Linked DNA regions of Homo sapiens. The protein of the gene in region 6 purifies or fractionates together with the protein of the main gene of each other region. This does not show direct contact. Each region holds a gene or a part of one and is shown on either strand. Other genes may lie near its edges. The genes, in order: HSD17B14, QDPR, TKT, PPA1, ATIC, GLO1 and MRPL13.

The links.
Region 1: the proteins of GLO1 (region 6) and HSD17B14 fractionate together in Homo sapiens (co-fractionation; one large-scale study listed by BioGRID). This does not show direct contact.
Region 2: the proteins of GLO1 (region 6) and QDPR fractionate together in Homo sapiens (co-fractionation; one large-scale study listed by BioGRID). This does not show direct contact.
Region 3: the proteins of GLO1 (region 6) and TKT fractionate together in Homo sapiens (co-fractionation; one large-scale study listed by BioGRID). This does not show direct contact.
Region 4: the proteins of GLO1 (region 6) and PPA1 fractionate together in Homo sapiens (co-fractionation; one large-scale study listed by BioGRID). This does not show direct contact.
Region 5: the proteins of GLO1 (region 6) and ATIC fractionate together in Homo sapiens (co-fractionation; one large-scale study listed by BioGRID). This does not show direct contact.
Region 7: the proteins of GLO1 (region 6) and MRPL13 purify together in Homo sapiens (affinity purification with mass spectrometry; one large-scale study listed by BioGRID and IntAct). This does not show direct contact.

Annotation. Positions count from the first base shown.
Region 1 is NC_000019.10:48,816,005-48,819,491, forward strand, and holds part of HSD17B14 (L-fucose dehydrogenase), read right to left. Parts: intron 1-3,487. UniProt on the Homo sapiens protein: Catalyzes the NAD(+)-dependent oxidation of L-fucose, yielding L-fucono-1,5-lactone, which rapidly converts spontaneously to L-fucone-1,4-lactone. Can also act on D-arabinose and L-galactose, with lower catalytic efficiency. Does not use NADPH.
Region 2 is NC_000004.12:17,502,091-17,505,590, forward strand, and holds part of QDPR (dihydropteridine reductase), read right to left. Parts: intron 2,386-3,500; coding exon 2,289-2,385; intron 1-2,288. UniProt on the Homo sapiens protein: Catalyzes the conversion of quinonoid dihydrobiopterin into tetrahydrobiopterin.
Region 3 is NC_000003.12:53,242,523-53,246,022, forward strand, and holds part of TKT (transketolase), read right to left. Parts: intron 1-3,500. UniProt on the Homo sapiens protein: Catalyzes the transfer of a two-carbon ketol group from a ketose donor to an aldose acceptor, via a covalent intermediate with the cofactor thiamine pyrophosphate.
Region 4 is NC_000010.11:70,226,930-70,230,429, forward strand, and holds part of PPA1 (inorganic pyrophosphatase), read right to left. Parts: intron 3,471-3,500; coding exon 3,412-3,470; intron 1-3,411.
Region 5 is NC_000002.12:215,346,559-215,350,058, reverse strand, and holds the end of ATIC (bifunctional purine biosynthesis protein ATIC), read right to left. Parts: intron 3,301-3,500; coding exon 3,118-3,300; intron 966-3,117; coding exon 810-965; intron 524-809; coding exon 404-523; 3' UTR 295-403; downstream 1-294. UniProt on the Homo sapiens protein: Bifunctional enzyme that catalyzes the last two steps of purine biosynthesis.
Region 6 is NC_000006.12:38,682,646-38,686,145, reverse strand, and holds part of GLO1 (lactoylglutathione lyase), read left to right. Parts: intron 1-1,631; coding exon 1,632-1,772; intron 1,773-3,270; coding exon 3,271-3,338; intron 3,339-3,500. UniProt on the Homo sapiens protein: Catalyzes the conversion of hemimercaptal, formed from methylglyoxal and glutathione, to S-lactoylglutathione. Involved in the regulation of TNF-induced transcriptional activity of NF-kappa-B. Required for normal osteoclastogenesis.
Region 7 is NC_000008.11:120,410,651-120,414,150, reverse strand, and holds part of MRPL13 (large ribosomal subunit protein uL13m), read left to right. Parts: intron 1-38; coding exon 39-160; intron 161-3,500.

The DNA.
Region 1 (3,487 bases), on a different chromosome or scaffold from region 6:
AGCAAGACTCCGTTTCAGAAAAAAAAAAAAAAAAAAAAAGAAATGCACTGTTTCCTGCCACCGTTTCTCCTGCAATTCAACTCCCTGGCCACCTGGGAAGTCCCTAAATACTCTCTCTGTGTGTGTGCGTGTGTGTTCGTTGACTACACATGACCTTGGATAAACTCAAATTCTATCTTTGATCTCGCTTGCCTTAGAAAGCTGAGCTGGCCAGGCAAGGCCTGTCCCTGCCACTTAAGACTAATTGGTACAAGGCAGCACCCCTAGCAGGCTCTCCGAGTGGGAATCTAAATGAGCTCCCTGCCCGGTTCCCCCCACCAACTCTTTCAAGCCATTTCTGCTCCCCTCCCAAACGACCTCCACCCTTTTCCGTGCTGTATCTTCGACACACCCTGCGTGTTCAAACCTCAGGGCCTTTGAACTTGCTGTTCCCTCTGCCTGGAGTGCCTTTTCCTAAGAGAGCCACATGACCCACTCTTAGGGTGGCCAGCCATCCCAGTTTGCCCAGGACTGAAGGGTTTTTGGGGACATGGTATTTTCAGTCCACAGTGTCAATGCTAAACGGGGACTTTCCTGGGTAAACACTCCCTCAGCTCCCTCAAACCCTGATCCGAGGTCACCTCCTCAGTGAGGTCTTCCCTGGCTATACTGTTTAAAGCTGCAAGCCAGGATCACTAGCTCACACCTGTAATCCTTGCACTTTGGGAAGCCGAGGAGGGAGGATTGCTTGAACCCAGGTGTTTGAGGCCAGCATGGGCAGCTTAGCAAGACCCTTTTTCTTTCTTTCTTTCTTTCTTTCTTTCTTTCTTTCTTTCTTTCTTTTCTTTCTCTCTCTCTCTCTCTTTCTTTCAGATAGGGTATCACTCTGTTGTCTAGGCTGGAATGCAGTGGTGCAATCTCAGCTCATTGCAACCTCCACTTCCCAGGTTCAAGCAATTCTCCTGCCTCGGCTTCCCGAGTAGCTGGGACTACAGGCATGTGCCCCCACACCAGGATAATTTTTTTTTTTTTTTTTTTTTTTTAGTGGAGACAGGGTTTCACTATATTAGCCAGGCTGGTCTCGAACTCCTGATCTCACATGATCTGCCTGGCTCGGCCTCCCAAAGTGCTGGGATTCCAGGCTTGAGCCACTGTGCCTGGCCTGTCTTTATTTTTTTTAACAACAAAAAAATATTTTTTGTTTTATTTTTTGAGACAGAGTCTCACTCTGTTGCCCAGGCTGGAGTGCAGTGATGTCATCTTGGCTCACTGCAACCTCCTCCCCCCAGGTTCAAGCCCTTCTCCTGCCTCAGTCTCCTGAGTAGCTGGGACTACAGGCATGTGTCACCATGCCTGGCTAATTTTTGTATTTTTTAGTAGAGATGGGGTTTCACCATGTTAGCCAGGCTGGTCTTGAACTCCTGAGGTCAAGTAATCTGCCTGCTTCGGCCTCCCAAAGTGCTGGGATTACAGGCGTCAGCCACCACGCCTGGCCCCAAAAAATAAAATAATAAAATAAAACTGCAGTTCCCACACCCCTGGGTCCCCTTCCCTCTTTCAGATGTCTTTTCTCTGTGTCACACACTCCCTTCTGACAGGCCATATATATTTTACTTGTTTGTTCATGTTCTGTCTCTCCCACCAGCATGCAGAAACCTATGAGGGATGGTCAAGATTTCTTATTTTGTTTCTTCCCCAGCACTAAAGGTGCCTGGCACATAGCACATGCTTCATAAATATCCTTTGAATGAATGAATGGGTGAATTAATGAATGAATGGAGGACCTGGTATGTGTCCAGCCCTGTCCTCAGCAATTTACATGGATTAGCTCATTTCATCCCTCTAACATTCTCCTGTACCTACAAGAAGGAGGTACAGCTGAGAGTCCCATTTCACAAGCGAGGAGACTAAGGAATGGAGGGATGATTGACGCCCGCAGGGCATCACGTGACACCTGACAGCACCAGCATTTGCTGCTGGACAGGCTGAGACCCAAACCCATAAACAAACAACAATTTCTCACAATTCTAAGTATTAAGAACTTTAGGCCAGGCACAGTGGCTCACACCTGTAATCCTAGAACTTTGGGAGGCTGAGGCGGGCAGTCACCTGAGGTCAGGAGTTCAAGACCAGACTGGTCAACATGGCAAAACCCCATCTCTACTAAAAATACAAAAATTAGCCGGGTGTGGTGGTGCGTGCCTGTAATCCCAGCTACTCGGGAGGCTGAGGCAGGAGAATCTCTTGATCCCGGGAGGCAGAGGTTGCAGTAAGCCACAATCGCACCACTGCACTCCAGCCTGGGCAGCAGATAAAGACTGTCTCAAAAAAAAAGAAAAAAGAAAAAAGAAAAAGAGAAACCATGCTCTAATATGAACGTGAATGATGTGGGCATTGACCAGCCTCTGCCCTCCTCCTCAGGGAACCTCTCATCCTCGCCTCCTCTCACTCCCACCAGCCGTGACACCCTCCCTCCCTCCCAGTGCCCACCCCACCTGCCTTGCTCCATTTCTCTCTCAGTCTGTGCACCTGCCCTGCTGTTTAATCTCCTCCCCCACCTGACCCTGCAAACATGAGTCTCACCAGGGCTGAGACACGGATCTTGCCACCCTCACCCCAGCACGAGGCACACAGCTGGAGCTCAGTAAATATTTGTCCCACACTCCCTGAGTGTCCTTCTCCCCACACCCCTCAAGGTTGCTAAGCACCTGCTCTATATCAAGGACCCGCTGGGGGCCAGGTGCAGTGGCAGGTACCTGTAATGTCAGTGCTTTGGGAGACTGAGGTGGGAGGATCGCTTCAGTCCAGAAGTTCAAGGCCAGCCTGGGCAACATACTGAGACCCCAGTTCTTAAGTGCCAAGGTTCTGAGACAGGAGCAGGCCTGTTGTGTTTGGGAGCAATGAGGCCAGTGTGGCCGGAGGTGAGGTCAGAGAAGAACAGGGGCCAGATCACGAGGCCTTGAAGGCCCCCACTTCTCCCTTGGACAAATGCAATCAACTCCTTTTTTTGTTTGTTTGTTTCAGAGACAGAGTATTGCTCTGTCACCCAGGCTTGAGTGCAGTGGCACGATCTCGGCTCACTGCAACCTCCACCTCCCAGGTTCAAGCAATTCTTCTGCCTCAGCCTCCCGAGTAGCTGGGATTACGGGCGCCTACCACCACGCCTGGCTAATTTTTGTATTTTTAGTAGCAACGGGGTTTCTCCATGTTGGCCAGACTGGTTTCGAACTCCTGACCTCAGGCAACCTGCCCACCTCGGCCTCCCAAAGTGCTGGGATTACAGGCGTGAGCCACCATGCCCAGCTCAAATGCAATCAACTCCTAATACTGGTTCTCCCACTCTCACGCTTAACCCTCAGATTTGTCCCTCATACCTACAGGAGCCAGAGCCTATGATCTGTTAATAATACTAACAGGATCACATCACTCCCTTGCTCAAATACCTGCCACAGCTCCCTATTGCTCTTGACATAAAGACCAGATGATTCAGCATGCCCTTCAAGGCCCT
Region 2 (3,500 bases), on a different chromosome or scaffold from region 6:
TGGCCAATAAATTTTACAAAATAAACCTGGAGTTTACTGATTTGCTGGACTGGCTTTAATTCAAAGATTGTTTTATTTTATGAATGGTATCAGATTTGTAATAAGAACCTATATGTCTACGTCAGGTTTTCTCTGTGATAAAAATCCAAGGGCCTATTACTGTACAGCTATAAAGAGAGCTTTTACTGAGCTACATATTTTATGTCTGAAAGTTTAATGTTAGCTTTAAAGACTCTTCAAAAGAAAGCTAAAATAACAACCATTTTACACTTGTTTTAACTCCCCGGCCTTGCCAGAGACATAAGGAAGAACAAATGGTAACATATGTCACACCACCAACTGGGCAACTCGAAGGGCATGTGGTACCTGGTGATCAAAAAAGGATGTCCTCCTGATATAGGAGGGGTTGGTAGGTGATAAACAAGAAATTGCATTTCCCCACTAAAAAAGACTAGGAAAAAAACCTGATGGATCCACATTTATCATTTCTTGCTCCCAAAACATACAAAAAGGTTATCAAGCTGTTTTGCTAACCTGATCACCTCACAAAGCACCACTCTCACATTGACATGTGGGTCACAGAATGTCAACGTCTTTTTAAATGGCTTTGGCTAATAAATGTAGAAGGGATGACAGAATTAGAAAACTACCATTTTCCAACCCCTGAATAAGTGCTTCAGGCAGAGATTATCAACGAAGGACTAAAACCACTGGGTGAAAAGTATAATACTTGGGAAACAGGACATTCACACACAATACCACAATACCACACATCCCACAGATGACTGACTTACTGCAAACAGAAAAAAAGTACCTTTATAATGGAAGTCTGGCAGTTGCCATCTCAACCAAGCATCAAATTTGGCATCCCTAAGGGTAGGGCAAGCTGCCATGCTGAGCTTCCCAGGTGATGTCATATAAGGTACACACCATCACTCAGGAAGAATTCGCACCACAAGAATGTTTATGCTAAATCTAACTGAGTCTCTAGACCCAAATTCCAGTTCACGGGGAATACCAAGGATAGAGGAACAAGTCAAACAACCCCTTAAAGAAAAGTTCAGACAAGTTCAGAATGTGAGACATGCTATATGAAAACTCCCAAGGACTTGACAAAAAGTCTTATCACAGGGGATTTTTTTAAAAATTCTAGATTTTCTAGATTAAGAGACTAAAAACAACATAATGCAGTACATAAACCTTGAGTGGAATATGTTTAGGGAAAAAGAACTATAATAGACATGGAATAAACTGGGGAAATTTGAATATGGGCTCAATATCATTAATCTTAGATAATCACTGTTAACTTTCTTAGGTACAATGGTACCATAATAATGTAGGACGGGCTTATTCTTTGGAGAAACACGCGGAAATATAGTGAGGTGTAAACTTATTTTCAAACAGTTAACAAAAAACAATGCACAAAGTACACAGGCACAAGAAAACAAGCTCAACTCAAGTACAGCAAATGTTAACAGTTACTGAATCTAGATGGAGCATATAAGGGTGTTCATTGAACTGTTCTTTCAACTTTTCTGGTATGCTTAGAAATGTTCATAATGAAAAGTTGAAAAATGGGCCAGGCGCACTGGCTCACGCCCGTAACCCCAGCACTTTGGGAGGCTGAAGGGGGTGGATCACCTGAGGTCAGGAGTTCAAGACCAGCCTGGGCAACATGGTGAAACCCCGTCTCTACTAAAAATACAAAAAATTAGCTGGGCTTGGTGGTGGGCACCTGTAATATCAGCTACTCGGGAGGCTGAGGCAGGAGAATCGCTTGAACCTGGGAGGCAGAGGTTGCAGTGAGCCGAGATTACACCATTGCACTCCAGCCTGGTGACAGAGCAAGACTCTGTCTTAAGAAAAAGGGTAGGGGAGTAGAGGGGAGGGGAGGGAAGGGAAGGGAAAAGAAAAGATGAAAAAAGGAATCAGCTTTAGTAAAATCTCAAGTTTGACTTCTTCTGACTTTCTAAATGATCTCTGCACTTCCTACACATCCTCCAATGCCTGAATAGCACATGGCCTGGGGCACAGGCCATGCTGATTTCATTCTGCCTCTACTTTAAACTCAAACTCAATGCCCCCCGTCCCCTCACGTCCTCCAGGGGAAGCTTCTTCTTTATCCGTAAAATGGATTAAGAGCATTAATCACTCTCTCCCCGAGCAACTGTAAAGATTCCGGGATATACACAAAAAAACAGCTGGCCTGTCACCTAGTGCAAACCCAATCCTTGTCAGCTGGAAAAAGAGCAGAGCAGAACAAATGAGTGACTCAGGAAAGGACTCACACTTGGATTTGGCATTGCCCCCGGCCCATCCTCCAGCAACGCAAAGAATTGCATCCACCTTCTCTTCACCCAAGAGCTTTCCAACCTCAGCAGTCACCTTCAACACAAGAACAAAAAAATGTATAAACTGTAAGGTAAGCCAACACAGGCTAGCATCTTTACGGATACTCAGTTTCTTTTTCTCTTCTTTTTAAGCCAGTTTACAGTACCTGGCAATTAATGCTTTGAGAATTAGACGGAAGACTAAGCTCTGATGAGCATTTTAGACATTGAAGCCCAAGTACACTTCAGTGTGATTTTTAAAAAACAATCTAGAGTCTCTGTGTATACATTCTGAAAGGTAGAGACATGAGCATCCCTTGAAATACAACAATTAATAAATAAAAGTAGGGAAAGGTTAAAAAAAAAAGAAAAAAGCACCTAGAGCTTCACTGCCTGCACATAGTTAACATCCTGGTGTATTTCTTTCCAGACTCTCTTCACAAATCACAGAATTATAATCCAAAAAGAAGATCAACCCTGTTTTCCCCACCCCAATCCAAAAATCCCTTTAACTGCAACTCTGAAAAAAATGCCAACGAAAAATTGTAAGAAAAATCATGAGCCAAGAAAAAATACAGTCAATAGCAATATGTTGGTAATATTAAGTACATGGGGGTTCACTTTAATGATCTCTCTGCTTCTGTTTGTTTGAGATTTTAAAGCATTGAAAATATATGTATGCCCTCTTGTTATAATTTATGAAAAGAACAGTCTGTCAGGACAGGCAATTCTGGCCATCCACCACGACTCTTCCGTATTTCTCTGGAATGGCTGAGATGACAAATCCCAATTGCTTCATTAAGATCAATCTTCTTAAGATTTCTTTTTTTTTTTTTTTTTTTTTTGAGATGGAGTTTCGCTTGTCTCCCAGGCTGGAGTGCGATGGCGCCATCTCGGCTCACTGCAACCTCCACCTCCCCGGTTCAAGCGAATCTCCTGCCTCAGCTTCCTGAGTAGCCGGGATTACAGGCGCCTGCCACCACACCTAGCTAATTTTTGTATTTTTAGTAGAGATGGGGTTTCGCCATGTTGGCCAGGCTTGTCTCGAACTCCTGACCTCAGGTGATTCGCCTGCCTCGGCCTCTCAGAGTGCTGGGACAACAGGACTGAGCTACCACGCCTGGCCCAATCTTCTTAAGATTTAAATCAGGCTGGGCACAGTGGCTCATG
Region 3 (3,500 bases), on a different chromosome or scaffold from region 6:
GGTTGGACTTGAGTAAGAAGGAAGGAGGGGCCCAGGAGAGATCTAGCACAGAAGACTCAGCCCAAGGCTAGCACTGCGGCTGGGGGCAGCTGCTGTCAGGTAGAACCCAGTTCCCACCTAGTGGCCCCCAGGAGTCTAAGGACTCAGCAGCCAAGGGGTGCCGGCATTCCTACGACTGACCCCACATCCTGACAGGACTGCCCGGACACTGCCCACTTGTGAAGGGCACCCTGCCCTCTCAGCACCCAGGGGTGCTGGGCCTCTGAGCCCATGGGGCAGGGAGGAAGGGACTGAGGCTCATGGAGTTACCACAGACCTCCCAGCAGCCTCCACGCATGGGGTGTGGTAGCCTGAAAAACTGGGCCTTGGGCTTTCCAATTGCATCACTGGGCTACTTGAAAGCTTTAGAAATGGGCAGTTTGAGGGCTGCTGTAGCAACTAGGAAACAGGCTTTTGTGTAGAATTTTCAAAGCAAGACACATAATCTCATCTCCTACAAGGCTACAATCATGTATTAATAAAAACCCCTTCTGCCTATGGACAAGGGCTGAGGAAGGGCTGACAAAGCAAGAACCTGCCTTCCAGCCTGGGAGTGGTGGGGCCACGGAGTCCCCTTGGCTTTTTAGACTTGTTTTAATCACTGAGCGGCTCCTGAGCAATAGAAAGCGTAAACTTTCTATTGCTTCCTGCTTCCCAGCAGGAAGCGCTGCAGGTCCTGATCAGCCCTGAAGCCCTCTGGTCCCAGGGTTTTGTTAAAAGTTCAGCCTCAGGGCACAGGCCTCCCGGGAGGGCCCCTCCACATGCAGCTCAGCTCAGCTCAGCTCAGCCCTCTCGCTGCTCCCAGAGGTCCTTCACACGAAGACACGCCGCATGCCAAGCCCAAGGGCACATGCACCATCTGGAGCTCACGCCGCCAGCCTCCCGCCCCTCCAATCAGCGCTCCCACCAGGTTAGGGGTGAGTCACGCTCAGTGCAGACAAGTTAGTAGTAGAGAAATCCAGAAAACTGTCCATGCTGGTTTAGTACCAACATTCTCGCACACGATCATCTTATACTTAACTATTTCTATGAACTCCCGGTCATGGGAAAAGACACTACACCTGAAAGAGGGAGGGGAGGACATGGTAAACGAGAAACCCTTTTCTGCCTGGCAGGGACCCTAATCCCACGCTCCCAGTGCCAGCTTCAACTGGAGGCCACCCTAATCCCACGCTCCCAGGGCCAGCTTCAACTGGAGGTCACCTCAGGCTGACCTCTCGTCCTTCCCACCTCCAAGGGCAGCCCCGGCCCTGAGGGGTCCTGTTTCTAAAGCCATGGTCCCATTAGGAGGGATCCTTGGTGGGAGAAGGATGTGGGTGGACACTGGGCCAAACTGTTCCGGGGAAGAACAAGGACGGTAAGTGCAGGGCTCCACCTGCCCCATCCACCTCGACACCCCGGGGTGACAGTCCCATTGGCCACCAGAAGGGGTTCCAGGGAGAAATGGTGTGGCACAGGCTCTTTCTGTGTGTGGCAGAAGCACACCCAGGCCCAGATAGAGTAAACGTGGAGAGAGGAAGGTCAGCTGCGAGGTGACCAAGGGTGAGAAGTAGAACGTGCAGCTGATTTTAAGCCTTCCTTGCTAGGCCTGCAGCCTTTCATTCCTTCCAAAGGCTGCATCCAGCCTGCTGCGGCCACTCTCTTCACTTCTACCAAGTAAACACGCACAAAAGAAGAACGCTTAGGAGCCAGGTGTCCCCGCACTCTTCCCCAGAGCTTTTGGGGCTCTCCCTCGGCAGAGCATCCTGGGTTGGGGAGGTGAGCTGTGCCACTTGGGCTTCGTGACTTCAACAAGTGCTTCGTCAACCCGGGGCTCAGCTTCTTCACTTGGGAGAGTGTCTGGGAGACACAGTGAGATAACGCAGCATGCACAGTACCCAGGTCTCTAGCAGCCGCCACCACTGCCAACCCTCTCAGCACCTGCAGCTCTTATCTACAGGCAGGGATGGTGACACCACCCACTCCTGCTGGCCACAGGCAGGCAAGAGGGGAGAAATACACCAAGGATTGAGACCGGGCTCTGCACACTGTAAAGCACTGAGCACACAGGAGACAGTTACTTTCAAGCTCAACTTCCTAGCGGGCCTTTGGGGCCAAAGGCATACATTTAAGCCTGTGGCCTCCTCAGGGCCAGAGTTTTTCCTGCCATTCCAGACTGCCTGCACAACTGCAGGTGGACGCCCCATCCCGTGGTGCTGTGTGTGACAACTCTGGGTGAACACTGGCGAGAGATGGGGTGAGGAGCACGGTGGAGGGGCTACAGGGTACTTACTGTATACCCTGACTCTGTGATAAACAGGGCTAACAAGCACACTTGACTGTTCAAAAAAAAAAAAAAAAAACTAACACACCCTGCCTTGACCAAAACAGTCCACTTACAACCCCAATTAGTTCAACCTGTGACGGTGGTGTGGCAAGCTTAGAGCTAGGCCCAAAGAAAGTCTCTTAAAGCCCCCTCCAGGCTGGGGGCAGTGGCTCACACCTGTAATCCCAGCACTTTGGGAGGTCAAGGCAGGCGGATCACCTGAGGTCAGGAGTTTAAGACCAGCCTGGCCAATATGGTAAAACCCCATCTCTACTAAAAATACCAAAAAATTAGCCAGGTGTGGTGGTGGACGCCTGTAATCCCAGCTACTCGGGAAGCTGAGGCAGGAGAATCACTTGAACCTGGGAGCCAGAGGTTGCAGTGAGCCAAGATTGCACCATTGCACTCCAGCCTTGGCAACAAGAGTAACACTCCATCTCAAAAAAAAAAAAAAAAAAGCCCCCTCTCCACTCCCCTCCAGGACAATATATATTCTTCCAGATGTCCCCTGGCCAGGAGAATCTCTGTCATCGCTTTAGTGCTCACTCCACCTGCTCACAGGTTTCTATGCAAGAAAAGGCCAGAGAGGCTCCCTCACCCTCCAGATGGGCTCCTTCAAGAGATAATGGATGTCAGGTTGGGCGCGGTAGCTCACACCCGTAATTCCAGCACTTTGGGAGGCCAAGGCAGGCAGATCACCTGAGGTCAGCGGCTCAAAGACCAGCCTGGCCAACATGGTGAAACCCCGTCTCTACTAAAAATACAAAAATTAGCCGGGCGTGGTGGCACATGCCTATAATCCCAGCTACTTGGGAGGCTGAGGCAGGAGAATAGCTTGAACCCCGGAGGCGTGGGTTGCAATGAGCCGAGATCATGCTACTGCACTCCAGCCTGGGCAACAGAGTGAGACTCTGTCTAAAAAATAATAACAATAATGAAAATAATTTACCAAAACTGACTCAAGAAGAAATAGAGAACCTAAGTAATCTTTCAAGCATTAAAAATAAACCAGATCAGTAGCCGAAGATGCACATCCCTTAACTCCCAGCAACTTCACCAGTAGGAACATACAGTGAAATGTACTCACATGTTCCACACATTCTACAGGAAACACAAACAGGCCGGGCACAGTGGCTCACACCTGTAATCCCAGCAC
Region 4 (3,500 bases), on a different chromosome or scaffold from region 6:
TAGAACCCTACATTGTCAGAACTAGAATTTAACATGAAAGTTTAAGATATGGAATAGAAAAATATCTGATTTCTAAAACTAAAAAATCAGGTCATGATATTTGAGCACTTTAAGATTTAGAGAAAGCTTTTATCTACCCAGTGTTTCATACTGTTTATACCATGTTTTGGAAAATTTCTGGTATCTCAGAAGTTTTATGTTAGAAGATACTCTGAGCTATAGGTGCTTTTATATTTGATCCTAAAATTGACCCAGAGCAAAGGACATCCCTACAATTTAAAAATATCCAGTGAGCCCTTGCCTTTACCTTCTCTACCCACTGGATTCGGAAATAATCAAAGCAGGGTACGCGAGTCACAAGATTTTCCAGAACTGGCTGGACTGATTACCTAATGGCATATGCCAAACTGAATATCCACATTAAAAGGTCCTGATATGGGTTGGACACAGTGGCTCACGCCTGCAACCCCAGCACTTCTGGAGGCTGAGGTGGGCAGATCGCTTGAAACCAGGAGTTCGAGACCAGCCTGGGCAACATAGGGAAACCCTGTCTCTACAAAAAAATAGAAAAATTAGCTGGGCGTGGTGGTGTATGCCTGTGGTTCCAGCTATTCAGGAGGCTGGAGCAGGAGGATCACTTGTGCCTGAGAGGTTGAAGCTGCAGTAAGCCAAGATCATGCCACTGCACACCAGCCTGAGTGACAAAGTGAAACCCTATCTCAAAAAAAAAAAAAAAAAAAAAAAAAGTCTGATATGGATATGAGCCCTTGGGCATTTTTCCTTAGTCTGATATCAATATGAGCCCTTGGACATTTTTCCTTAGTGGAGCTGACTGAGCTGTGTTAAAGGTACATGCTCACTAGATCATGACATTCCCTCATTATAATCCCTCGGATGACTGACCATATTAGGAATAAAGTCCAAGGCCAAGCCCGTGAGAATGTATTCATGTAAACTTAATCACAATAGATTTTTTATACAAAAGAAAGAAAATCACACTCTAATGAATCAAGTTAATCAGATTTTTTTTTTAAGGCTATAATCCAAAATGATGTCTACCACACCTTTATTTGTGTTTTAAACAAGTAACTTCCTTTAAAACAAAACAAAAGAATTCCTTCCAGCCTCTCAGGCAGGAAGGCTTCTGCCCAAGGTCCACTGAGGTCTAGACTACTGGTAAAATCCAGAGTCATAAGAACTTGTGCTTTTGAGCTGGGACAGGGCGTGCCAAGGGCAGAGTCTTCCTTTGAGTAATCCACTTTATAGACACAACCAGTCCCTTATAAGGCTTCAGTGTCTGAGAGTAATCTAAGTGAACACACTTAACAGGACACCAAAATGTAGCCTGTTTCCTATTTTGGAGTAACCTGAAGCAGCAATAAGAGTAGGTACCAAAACATCTATGATCATTCTGGTCCTTGGTAGGAATACAGTCACTTAGAACACTGGGAAAATAGCTCTATGTCAAGAAAATGTTTTCCTACCTGTAGCATACCTGTATGCCAGGGTATTATCAATAAACTTAGGGTCATCATTTTATACCTCTTCATTGCTCAAAATGGTCTGAGATGCTACAGTATGATATACATGCTATTATACAACAAGCAGATAATTCAAGCCAACCCAATGGGGCCAATTGAAGAGGGAAGGATTCTGCAGTTTATATCAACTCCCAGGAAATCAGATGTAACAAATTCGAGTTTCTGAATAAATACCACTCTGACACTCCCACAGGAAAAACACATGCCAATTAGAAGTCCCTCCTGTATTTGTGGCACATAATTGGCCTAGGGCTGTTTGCTCCATTGCCTCTAATTGGAGTCTTACCCAGGAAGGCTCCTGGGAAGCAATGTAAAAATTGGAATTTCAGGCAGTACAGAACTGCAGCAAACTTCCTGGTAGAAGTGCAATGAATGTGTCTATTTCTATCTAATAGTCAGGCCCAGAAAAACAGTAAGACAGCACACACAAGAACAAAATTACTATTATTCTAGACGTGCACTGCAAAGTGATGTTCGTGTTGTATATTGACATCTAGCTAAAGAAAGTCAATAACCTATGTAACTCTTACAACTCAAAAACCTTTGTACTCAATGTGAATCAAACTTCCTTACTGAAGGAAAAAAACTGAAAGGTAGAAAAAGAATAAGATATTTGTCCTTGTGTTAAGTTGCTAAATACAGTACAAACTGCTTCCATTGGAAAGGAGAGTAAGAAAAGATGTGTTTTTTAAAATGACTGTTTAAAGTTGTTCTTATAACACATGTTCTTTGTAAAAAGATTAGACAATATAAAAAGACAAAAATGAAAATAAAACCAAGAGTCACTGGCAGTCCCACGAATCATAACTATTTTGATATATATTTTATTGTTATTTATTTTCCTAAGACAGGTTCTTGCTATGTTGCCCAGTCTGGTCTCAAACTCCTGGACTCAAGTGATCCTCCCAGCACAGCCTCCCAAGTGGGATTACAATTGCCCCACACTCAGCTATTCTGGTGTATACAGTTGTAGACTTCTTTTTCCCCTAGAAAAGTAAAGACTTTTACAATTTGTGGTAAGCCTACCAATCTGTATTAAAGTTAGGTTTCTTCTCACTGGTGTATACAGGAACAGCTATGTCCTTTTAGAAGTCTGTGTGCCTACCTGTATTAACTCTATCTTAACTGTGCAAATCTTAACGGTACTAGCCCGTTACTAAATTTTCCTATACTCATTGAATAATCTAGTTTACTTTTACTGTTTCATAAAGATCCCACAGCCAAAATTCTGTGCTGGCTACCTGGTTTATTTTAGAACCAGTAATGAAGTATTACGACTTTAGTTCCAAATACACATACAAAAAGGACCAATGTAATTTTTTCTTTTTTTTTTCCAAGACAGATTAAATACTTTTGCTTTTACTCCTCCTCTCCTTCCCCAAATTATATTTGCTCCTTTAACTAAATAATCTAGTTTTAAGACTAACTTCTTATTTAGTCAATGGACCTTTTTTTTTGAGACAGGGTCTCACTCTGTCACCCAGCTGGAGTACAGTAGTGCCATCTCGGCTCACTGCAACCTCTGCCTCCCAGGCACAAGCGATCCTCTCACCTCAGCCTTCCAAGTAGCTGAGACTACAGACACATGCCACCATGCCCGGCTAATTTTTGTATTTTTTGTAGAGACAGGGTTTCACCATGTTGCCCAGGCTGTTCTTGAACTTCTGGACTCAAGCCCTCCACCCGCCTCAGCCTCCCAAAGTGCTGGGATTACAGGCGTGAGCCACCACGCCCAGCCTAATCAACAGACCTTTAGCTCACAGCACAACGAGGCATTTTAAGCACTTGTTGAGAGACATATAAGAAAATTCATATGTAGAACTAGCTGATCTGAGTAAAGAGACTGTGTCCAAAAACAAGGATGCCTTACCTTATCTGCATAAATTGGAATATCATGAAATGGAGATATATATTGTCCTTTCTCATTTTCTGCAAAATAAATTAGAAAAAGTTATTACT
Region 5 (3,500 bases), on a different chromosome or scaffold from region 6:
AACTCCCATGCAGAAGAATTCTAGGTAATTTACATCAATACTCCACCTTTAAGATGGGTATAACTCCCAGTCCTTAAGTGTGGCCTGTACACAGTGACTTGTGCCATGTCCTCTGGCTGCTCAGCTCGTTTGGTTCCTGCTAATGTTTATGTTTCACACGGGCAGTGCTGTGGGATGGGCTGAGCTCCGGTAGGCAGGGGTGCTCTGGAATTCCTCATTTATGTGTTATGTGTCATGTGTCAGTTCAAAGAGCCTGCATCTTTAACATAAAACACAACTACCAAAAACTATGGATCCAGTGATTAAGAGATACTGTTTTATTTTTTTAAAAAGTTATCCTCAAAGTTTCAGGCGTGACTGTTCACCTACACATAAGCAAGCCAAAAAACAGTGTGTGGTAAAATCAGTGGTGGAAGAGCCGAAGGTTCGTATGAGCGAGGATGATTCCCAGTTCGTCGCAGGCCTCAATCACAACTTTGTCAGCAGCAGAACCGGAGGGAGCCGCAATGTACGCCACACCACTCTGGGGGAAGTATATTGATTTTCAAAACGCGATTTTATGTAAAAACCTGCAAAACTCAAAATCCCCCTCTAAAAAGCATATGCTAACAAAGATACACTCAGTCAAAAAGGCAAAATAACAACAGGATTTGGGTTCTCCATCCACCCAATGGAGAAGTCAAATGGTTCTCTGAATATTACTGATCTGTATCACTTTGCCACACCTTTTAAAAATCAAAAGCAGGATTTCTGAAACAGTTTCTACATAATGCTCAACTCTAAGCAAATGCACCCAATTCCATACTTACCCTTTTAGCTCTGTCTACGTTATCTCGGAAAGGGAAGAAGGCATCAGAGCTGATAGAAACTTCAGTCAGTTTCTCAACCCATTCCTTCTTCTCTGCCTCAGTGAGTAACTCAGGGACTTCCTCAAACAGTGCCTTCCACTTTATCAAATCTTCATCCTATGCGGGGAGAGAGAAAGGAAGAAGCTTGGTCTGACATCGTCTTTAGTTCTATGTGGTGCAAATCACCATGCCAGAAAGCACCTGGGCATTTTTCTTAGGACTTGTTTTTATTATTATTATTATTTTTTTTTTTTTAGACGGAGTTTTGCACTATCACCAGGCTGGAGTGCAGTGGTGCGATCTCGGCTCACCGCAACCTCCACCTCCCAGGTTCAAGCAATTCTCCTGCCTCAGCCTCCCAAGTACCTGGGACCACAAGTGCACACCACCACACCCAGCTAATTTTTGTATTTTTGGAGACAGAGTTTCACCATGTTGGCCAGGAGGGTCTCAATCTCTTGACCTCATGATCCACTCACCTCGGCCTCCCAAAGTGCTGGGATTATAGGCATGAGCCACCGCGCCCGGCCAGGATTTCTTAATTGTAAATAATGACCATTATTTACATGGAAGTTCACATATCTAGAATCTCTTTGATGCTTTTAGAAATATTTTCATTAAGGAAAAAAAGTGATTCTAAGTTTACCAAATAAAGATAATACCATTTTACTTTCCAAATCAGTTTATTCCAAGTACATATGTAATTTTTTTTATTTTTGGCTAAGCTACTTACATAAAAATACACTGTTTTAAAATCTCTAATTTAAATCTACTTCGTATCTACTACTTTATGTCTATTAGACTACCGTCTAATTTAAATCTACTGCTTTGGTACTACTGTAGCAAAGAAAGCAAATAAAAATTGTGTTCCAAGGGTTTTCAAAAAAACCCTCTATATCCAATCTAGGAAAGAGATGAGTAGTTCTTTAACTACATTTATACAAAAATTATTCTAAATGTAAAGGCAGTTGTAGACAAAACACAATTCATAATATTTGCTATGGTTTGAGTGTGTGTATCCACTCCAAAATTCATGTTGAAACTTAATCCCCAATGCAACAGTATTAAGAAGTATAAGGCCTTTAGAAAGTTATTGGGCAATGAGGGTGGGGCCCTCATGAATGGATTACAGACTTATAAAAGGGCTTCAGGGGAAGTATGCCCCTTCTGTGAAGTAAGGACACAGTGTTTGTCCTTTCCAGAGAGGGCTGTGCCATCTGGGAAGCAGAGGGTAGGCCTCCCCAGACTCTCAGCCCACCAGTACCTTGATCTGGGACTTCACAGCCTCCAGAACTATGAAAAATAAATGTCTATGGTTTATAAGTTACCCAGCCTGCAGTATTGTGTCATAGTGGCACAGACAGTTAATCATATTTTACAAGGTGCTTCTATCTTGGGTCATGTTTTAGCTTTGACATACTTTTATTCTTGTTCACTTCCAGGACTCTTTCAGGACTAGTAGCAGGGGTTGACTGGTAATATCAAACAGAAAAATCCAAGTATCAAAGTTGAAAAAAAAAAGATATCTTAAGGACTTCAGTTACATTCTGCAGCCTCACTCTTCAATGACACTTATGTTGATTCCTGCTCCTGAATAAAAAACTGAGGGTAGTCAATTGGCTCTTCAGAAGACCATCTAGTATTTGATTAGCAGCCTTCTGTTTTCCATCCAGCATTTTGTTAGGCACGCAATATGTCCAGAAACTGGGCTAGATCTTTTCTTCTGGCGGGCTACCTACCTAACGTTTGCGATTGTAATGTTCCCACATACCTTCTTCAAACAGAAGAACATGAAATGTAACAAAATGTATCAAGTTATTAATGGCACATGTAGAAAATGTGGTGGGAGAAGACCCCAGGGTTACCTGCCGTCAGGCAATTTGTATTTAATGTTGAATACAGACCCATCGGACAGCAAGCACCATGCATGACGTGGTGGCAGGCACCTCGACGTAGGTGAAAAGCAGTCCTTGTCATCAAAAGCTTATAATCAACAGGGGAAGTACAAATATACAAACCTACACCAAGGCTGCAATTTAAAAAGACAGAGGACTGTGGTTTCAGAAAGGGGTCAAAAACAATGAAGAAAGTTACATGAGACAGAAGAACATGAGAAATGTGTAAGAAGTTTCAATGATCAATTTTAGACAACATAGAATTTCAATGAAAGTATCTTTTTCTCTGTGTGGTGATGAAGTTAAAATCTGTTACACATAAAGGGTTGAACTGAATATTAACACAGCCGAGAACCCAATGCCAAGTCTTTCACCTCGCCAATGGTTCCAGTCACATATTGATCGATGGCATTGGAGATTTCTGCTCTCTTCACTCCTGTTTTAAACTTCATCGAAAGCACTTGTGGATGGTGTCTAAGCCACCAATAGTTTGCCTTATCTCCTGCAAGGCGAGTGCAGTGTATACGAGACTGCTGTCCTGCTCCAATGCCGATAACCTGAGGAACACAGACATTAAAGTGAACACCTCTTCCAAAGACACTTTCTTCTCAAAAGGATCTTTTGTGCACATTCTCCAAAACCTATTTATTAGTTTTGTGGAAGAACATATCAGGCCAAAATAAGAGAAATATAAATAATTTTTAAGTCATTAAAAGGGGTGGAGTAAGAGGTTTGTTTATAACTACTATTTATACCT
Region 6 (3,500 bases):
TCTCCCCAGAGATAACTGCTGTCCAGTTTCTTGTGATTTTTTTCTAGAAAAAGGTATTATGAATATATTTATGACATATTTAAAGGACAAAATGAAAACAGATTTATTGAACACTTTTGCCAGGCACTTCAAATGTTATTTTGTTCAGTCTTCACACCAGTCTTAGGAGGTAGCTTTTATCCCCATTTCACAGACGGAGAAACCAAAGCTTAATGAGATGAAGTTACTAGCTCCAAATCCCACAGTTGGCATATGGCAGGGCTGGAACCTGTATCCATTGTCTGATGGGCTCTAATGTAGACTTCCTGTGCAGAGCCCCCAAATAGGGTACAAGTTGACAGTAAGCTGGAAGATTTGAACAGCTGAGAAAAGCAAGTTGCAACAGTTTCATTTCCTTCAGTCCCAACTGATTGGTCCATGAGGGTTGTGTAGTCTGCTTTAGTAGGTGCAGAGATTGTTTTTCATGATTGGAGTATTTGAGGTGTTTGATACTTTATTATAAACATGTTAGAGTAAATCTTATTTGTGATAAGTCAATGCAAGGATCTAAGTGGGCCAAGGTCTATTATATAGCAGTGATAATGAAATAAAAGATTGGAAGCAGAACTCTAGAAACTTTCCATTTGCTATATGGCAATAACAGCCATTTGCTCTTATTGATTATGAACAAAGTCATCTTTGAATAATCTAAAGAAAATCATATATGCATTCTCATGCCACCTTACTCCTTGCCAAATAATCCTATACCATTTAAAGTCATTTAAGGTTCAGGACTTCAGTTATCTTTCTTAAAACCTCAGGATTCATAATTCATTCACTCTCTCTCCCATCAGTCTCTTCTACTGTCTCTTTCCCCTCAGAGAAGCGTAAGTCTTCTTTGTTCCAGAATATTTCTTGCCCTCTGCTCCTTCGCCTACCTCCCCATTGTCACTGCCATGCTTGCTACTGTTTTACCTGCTCACCTGCCATTCTCTCTCCCCAGTACAGTGTAATCCAGCTGATGCTTCCCCACTCTGCTGACATTGCTCTCATGGGACCTTTCCATATCTCATGACCTTTTCTTAGTCTTAATACTGTTTGACCTTTCTACAGTATCTGATACTGTTAGCCACCTTACTGTTGACATTCACGTCTTCTGTGATACTAGTCTGTCCTTCCTCCTTCTTTCTTACCACCTATCCTTAATTTCCTTTCCTAGATGTTTTGGCATAGTAAGAACTCAATAAATGTGTTTATTTAACTGAATGACATATTTATATATGTGTTTGTATGTGTGTATATATATGAAATAGCAACAAGGTTCTTTATATTTTTCAGTACAAATAAACACAGTTCTCTTTTGGAGATAGCCGTTTCTATTTATTAACAAGTACCATAATTTCAGCTAAATGTTACTATATTTACAGAATTGATGAATTACAGAAGTTTTCATTTTTGTATTTCAAATATTTACAGATGCATTTTTCATGATATTTTTTCACTGATTTTTCCTCCTGCTTATTCCATTAAAATAGGCTTACTACATATAGCTCTTCTTTTTAGTAAAACTTGAATATTAAGTTATGTTGATTATAGTATGAATTAGCCTTTCCTGTTGTTAATGATTCAGGCTTGTTGTTTTTTCATTGCAGGCTAATCCAAAAATGTGATTTTCCCATTATGAAGTTTTCACTCTACTTCTTGGCTTATGAGGATAAAAATGACATCCCTAAAGAAAAAGATGAAAAAATAGCCTGGGCGCTCTCCAGAAAAGCTACACTTGAGCTGACACAGTGAGTATGAGTTTCTATATTTATATATATTATAGATTTTTTAAGGTAGTTTTTAAAAATCTTTTTTGTTTTGTTTACTGACCAGTATAATTCAAACCAGATCTGCCTATGACTTCACATTTTTAATAATATATTGAAGTGTTTTTCATGCATCTTTTGATCTTTGTATTGTTCTTGGGCAAATGAGATGTGTTTTTTTTAGAGACAGGCTCTCTGAAGCCTCTAACTTCTAGGTAGTCTTCCTGCCTCAGCCTCCTGAGCACCTTGGACTACACATGTGTGCCACCACACCCAGCTAGTTTTTGTTTGTTTGTTTTTGGTAGAGGCATAGAGGCAAGGTCTCACTATGTTGCCCAGGCTGGTCTCAAACTCCTGGCCTCAAGTGATCCGCCCGCCTCGGCCTCCCAGACTGCTGGGATTATAAGCATGAGCCACCACGCCTGGCCCATTTGTCTTTTATTTTTATTTATTTATTTATTTATTTTTTGAGACAGAGTCTTGCTCTGTTGCCCAGGCTGGAGTGCAGTGGCGCGATCTCGGCTCACTGCAAGCTCTGCCTCCCGGATTCACTCCATTCTCCTGCCTCAGCCTCCCAAGTAGCTGGGACTACAGGCGCCCGCCACTACGCCCAGCTAATTTTTTGTATTTTTTGTAGAGACGGGGTTTCACCATGTTAGCCAGGATGGTCTCGATCTCCTGACCTCGTGATCTGTCTGCCTCGGCCGCCCAAAGTGCTGGGATTACAGGCGTGACCCACCACGCCCGGCCTCCATTTGTCTTTTAGATAAGAGAATATAAGACCCTGAAATTGTAAGATATTTGCCTGTTTGTCTCTAACTAATTTTTAGGTACTATAATTAGTCTTTCAGCATCCAAAATTTTGTTCTTTTATTATTTTGCTACATTTTGGATCCAGAAATGTGATATCATGTGTTCCTTTAAAAATTCTTCAAACCATTTTGTAATAATTAACATTCAAATTTGGTATTTTTATAACTTGAGCACTTAAAAATGTAGGCAATTTCTTTACATTGTTTATCTGCATACTTTAAAAGAGATTGATTTCAGAGTGTGTGATTTCGTGTGTCCCTTGATTCAAAATAAAGCTTTGGAATCAGGCAGGCTTAGATATGAGTCTGTGACTCTAAACAAGTAAGTGGCAGTTTCATCAATAGAATGGAGATGTTCACACCTAGCCCATGGAGCTGTTTTAAGGGTTTAAATGAAATATAAAGTACTTAGCACAATAAATGAGCATTATTATTATTCTTATTATTGTTCTTGTCCAGTACCTGTATTTACTGTCTCTTTAGTCTCGTTAAAATCATACTTTGGCCATTTGTCCTTTCTATAGTTGAAAACTTAATATTTTTGTAGCAGGGGTTAGGCCAATTATGTAAAGTAGCATATAAACGTGGTAAGATTTCAAAGATGTTACTTGCTTTTCAGAATATCTATTCCCTAGGACATTGTAGCTATGTTTTCCTTCCTTTTGTAGCAATTGGGGCACTGAAGATGATGAGACCCAGAGTTACCACAATGGCAATTCAGACCCTCGAGGATTCGGTAAGTTTGCCTGTTTTTATGTGATATATGTAGATTTGTGTGATTTTGTATTATGTATATAATTATGATTTTAATAAACCTAAAACATTAATGTCCTAATTAAGTATGATCAATTTATTAGAGATATGATTATTTTTATTTTCCACAAATAATCTTATTTAG
Region 7 (3,500 bases), on a different chromosome or scaffold from region 6:
TTTTAAGAAAATTAAGTCTAAATTTTTTTTTAATGTAGTATATTCCAGAAGATATTCTTAAGAATTTAGTAGAGGAGCTTCCTCAACCACGAAAAATACCTAAACGTCTAGATGAGTACACACAAGAAGAAATAGACGCCTTCCCAAGATTGTGGACTCCGTAAGTGTTTCCCTTCTTCTTGTTTTTTTTTCTTTTGATATCCTCTGTTTCCTCAACCATATGATTAAATAAGATCCTTGAGGGCGGGAAGAGTGAACTCATTTTTTTGCTCCCCTGGGAACTCAGCAGCTACTACCTACAAATAAACTCTAGATGTAGGTATTAGAACCAAAAATTTTTAAGCATTAAGACCTTGCTAGATAAGTGCGAGGATGTTCATAGGTTCCTATAATTATCAAGTATTTTGTTTGGGCTGATGGTAGTCTTTAGGAATGATATATGAATTGTTATTAATCTAAAACGTAATGATTCTCAGTTTTCCACATTGTTTCATAAGTTAAAAATATTATCTAATGAAAAGTCATTAATTTTGGATACTTGTTGTCTTGGTCCAAAAAGAAAAACAAAATAAAAAAATACTTTTTGCTCTCCTCTGTACAGTTTCCTCTACCTAAGGCCGTAAAGCTGCTAAGATGTAACATTCTTTCTCCCATCTAGTTGTTTCTAGGCTTTTTTGCCAGGGCTATCCAGATGATGAAGCATTTAAGTGTAACTTCCTCAGGCAGTCCTTCCTGTAATCTTTGAACCGGGTTAGGCTCTCATTATGGGTTCTCATCGTACACTTCCATTTACTGATTTACTCTAATTATATATTTGTGTGATTATCTGTTTACTATCTGTCTTTCTTGCTAGACTTCATGAGGGAGCTACATGTTTGTCTTATTTAGCACTGAGCATGGTGCTGGACAAATTAAATAGACACTCAGCCAGTATTTATTGAATAAATTAATTAAGACTTTTATCAGCTTTTATAAGTGACTTTAGGAAAGAATCTCTAGAAAATATGAAGCAAAGACCACTTTTCATTTTTTTCACAGCATTTATCACTATCTACTGTACTCTCATTTATATGTGTGTCTGTTATTTGTCTCTCTACACTCATGGCAATAATAAAAATAGCAAGCACTAATAAAGCATTTATTGTGTGCTTTACATGTATTAATCTACTAATCCTCAGAGCAATCTAGTGAGTCAGTACAATTTTTATTTTTATTTTTATTTTTTAAATGAGAAAATATGGGCACAGAGAGATAAAGCAACTTGACTAATATCACATAGTTATAAATGGTATATTAAGGATTCAAGCCTGAGTGACTAGCTGCTGGGTCATGCTCCTAACTCTGCTGGAATGCCCCTTCTTGCATTGGCATGTCAGCTTCAAGGGGGCAGGGACATTGTCTGGTTCAACATTTACATCTTAGAAATACTTAGAAACCCTTAGAAATAGTACTTGGTGCATAATGGGCACTCAGTAAGTGTTTTGGAAAGAATGAAGACATGAGCTCTTTCCCTAAAAATTAATTGTGAAATTTTCATGAATAGCTTAAGTTTTAGAAAAATCCAAACCAAGGTTCAAATCTTGCCTCTATAGTAGCTGACTCTATAACCTTAAGTAAGTCATCTTTCATTTTGAGCCTTAGTTTCTTCATCTCAACTCAGTTTCTTCAGTTGTAAATTAGAGCCACTCCATACTTCTGAGAATTGCTGGAAGGAGTAAGTGAGCAACTTAGCACACTTGAAGTGTTGACTAAGTTTTTAATAGGAGAATTTTTTTGCTATTGCAAATTCTATACCATTTTAACATGCTTGCTAGTGTAGAGTTTTATTGTAAATGTACTTAAGTTGATGTAGTTTGAAAATATTCAGCTTTGATAAGTTATATACTAAAAACATTTTAAGTTGTCCTTGAAGTTTTGACAGGTTACCTTCCTATAACAGTTCTGTAAATATGTATCTGATTTTCTTACAGAAACACCATCATAAATGAATTTATATTCCTGACCAAGAGGGGTGTGGTACTCTTTTTTTTAAAATTAGAAATAATAAAGTTGCTGTTAAATCATGTATGTGCAAATACATATTATACACTTGAAGTCATATTTCATGAATATTCTAAAGTGTATTCTAAATCAGTTAAACTGGCACCACACTAATATAATAATTCACAAATTATATTTAGTGTTATTATAGTCAGAGTACTGACCAAAATTTTCATTCTGCTGAATGATTTCTGCTTTCTTTTGAAACAAATTAGAAAGTGCCTGAGTGCCTTCATTTTATTAATAGAATTAGAAAGGGCTTTTCTATAGCTATTTTTAAGGAGATTTTTAGAGAAACTTAGAGCCACTAGATGCATTTTTTAGTTACTACTCTGGGAATAGATTTTCCTGCCCTCTCTCTTCATTCCAGATTTCCCTGAGGCAGGAATATGCATTAGACACTAGGTTTTCCTTTATGCTTTATTAAGGTTGTGATTTTTTCCTCATAAATAGTCACACGCATATGTTAACTTGTATTTTCAAAATAGTAAAATAGGTATACGTTTACTGAAACGTATGGATAGTATAGGTGTACTAGTCATTTAATATAAATCATTCTGTATTTCTTTCTCCCTGCACATTTGAGCTGACATCAAGTCCAGTTAGTCTTTATTACGTGAAAAGTGTGTGACCAGGAAAAATATAGTCATTTTTGGATTAACCAAAAGCTTATCTAAGAAATAGATGATCATTTACTTCAAGGCTCTTGAGTAGAACTTTCTACAATGATGAAAACAACTCTCAGCCAGGCATGGTGGCTCATGCCTATAATCCTAGCACTTTGGGAGGCCAAGGCAGGAGTACCTCTTGAGTTCAGGAGTTCAAGACCGGCCTGGGCAAGATGGCAAGACCCTGTCTCTACAAAAACAAAAAACAAAAAAATTAGCCAGGTGTGTTAGCACACACCTGTAGTCCCAGCTACTTGGTAGTCTGAGGCAGGAGGATCTCTTGAGCCCAGGAGTTTGCAGCTGCAGTGAGCCATGATCATGCCACTGCACTCCAGCCTGAACAACAGAGCAAGACTTGTCGAGAGAAGGGGAGGGAGAGGGAGTGGGAGAGGGAGGAGAGGGAGAGGGAAGCCTGGCGCGGTGGATCACCTAAGGTTGGTAGTTCAAGACCAGCCTGGCCAACATGGTGAAACCCCATCTCTAATAAAAATACAAAAAAAACTAGCCGGATATGGTGGTGGGCACCTGTAATCCCAGCTACTCTGGAGGCTGAGGCAGGAGAATTGCTTGAACCCGGGAGGCGGAGGTTGCCGAGATCGCACCATTGCACTCCAGCCTGCGTGACAAGAGCAAAACTCCATCTCAAAAAAAAAAGAGAGAGAAAGGAAGGAAGGAGGGAGGGATGGAGGGAGGGAGGTAACTCTCTATTCGAGCTTCAAATACATTAGCTACTGTTGACGTGTGGCTCTTGAGCCCTTGCACTGTGGCTAATGTGACTAAGGAACTGAATTT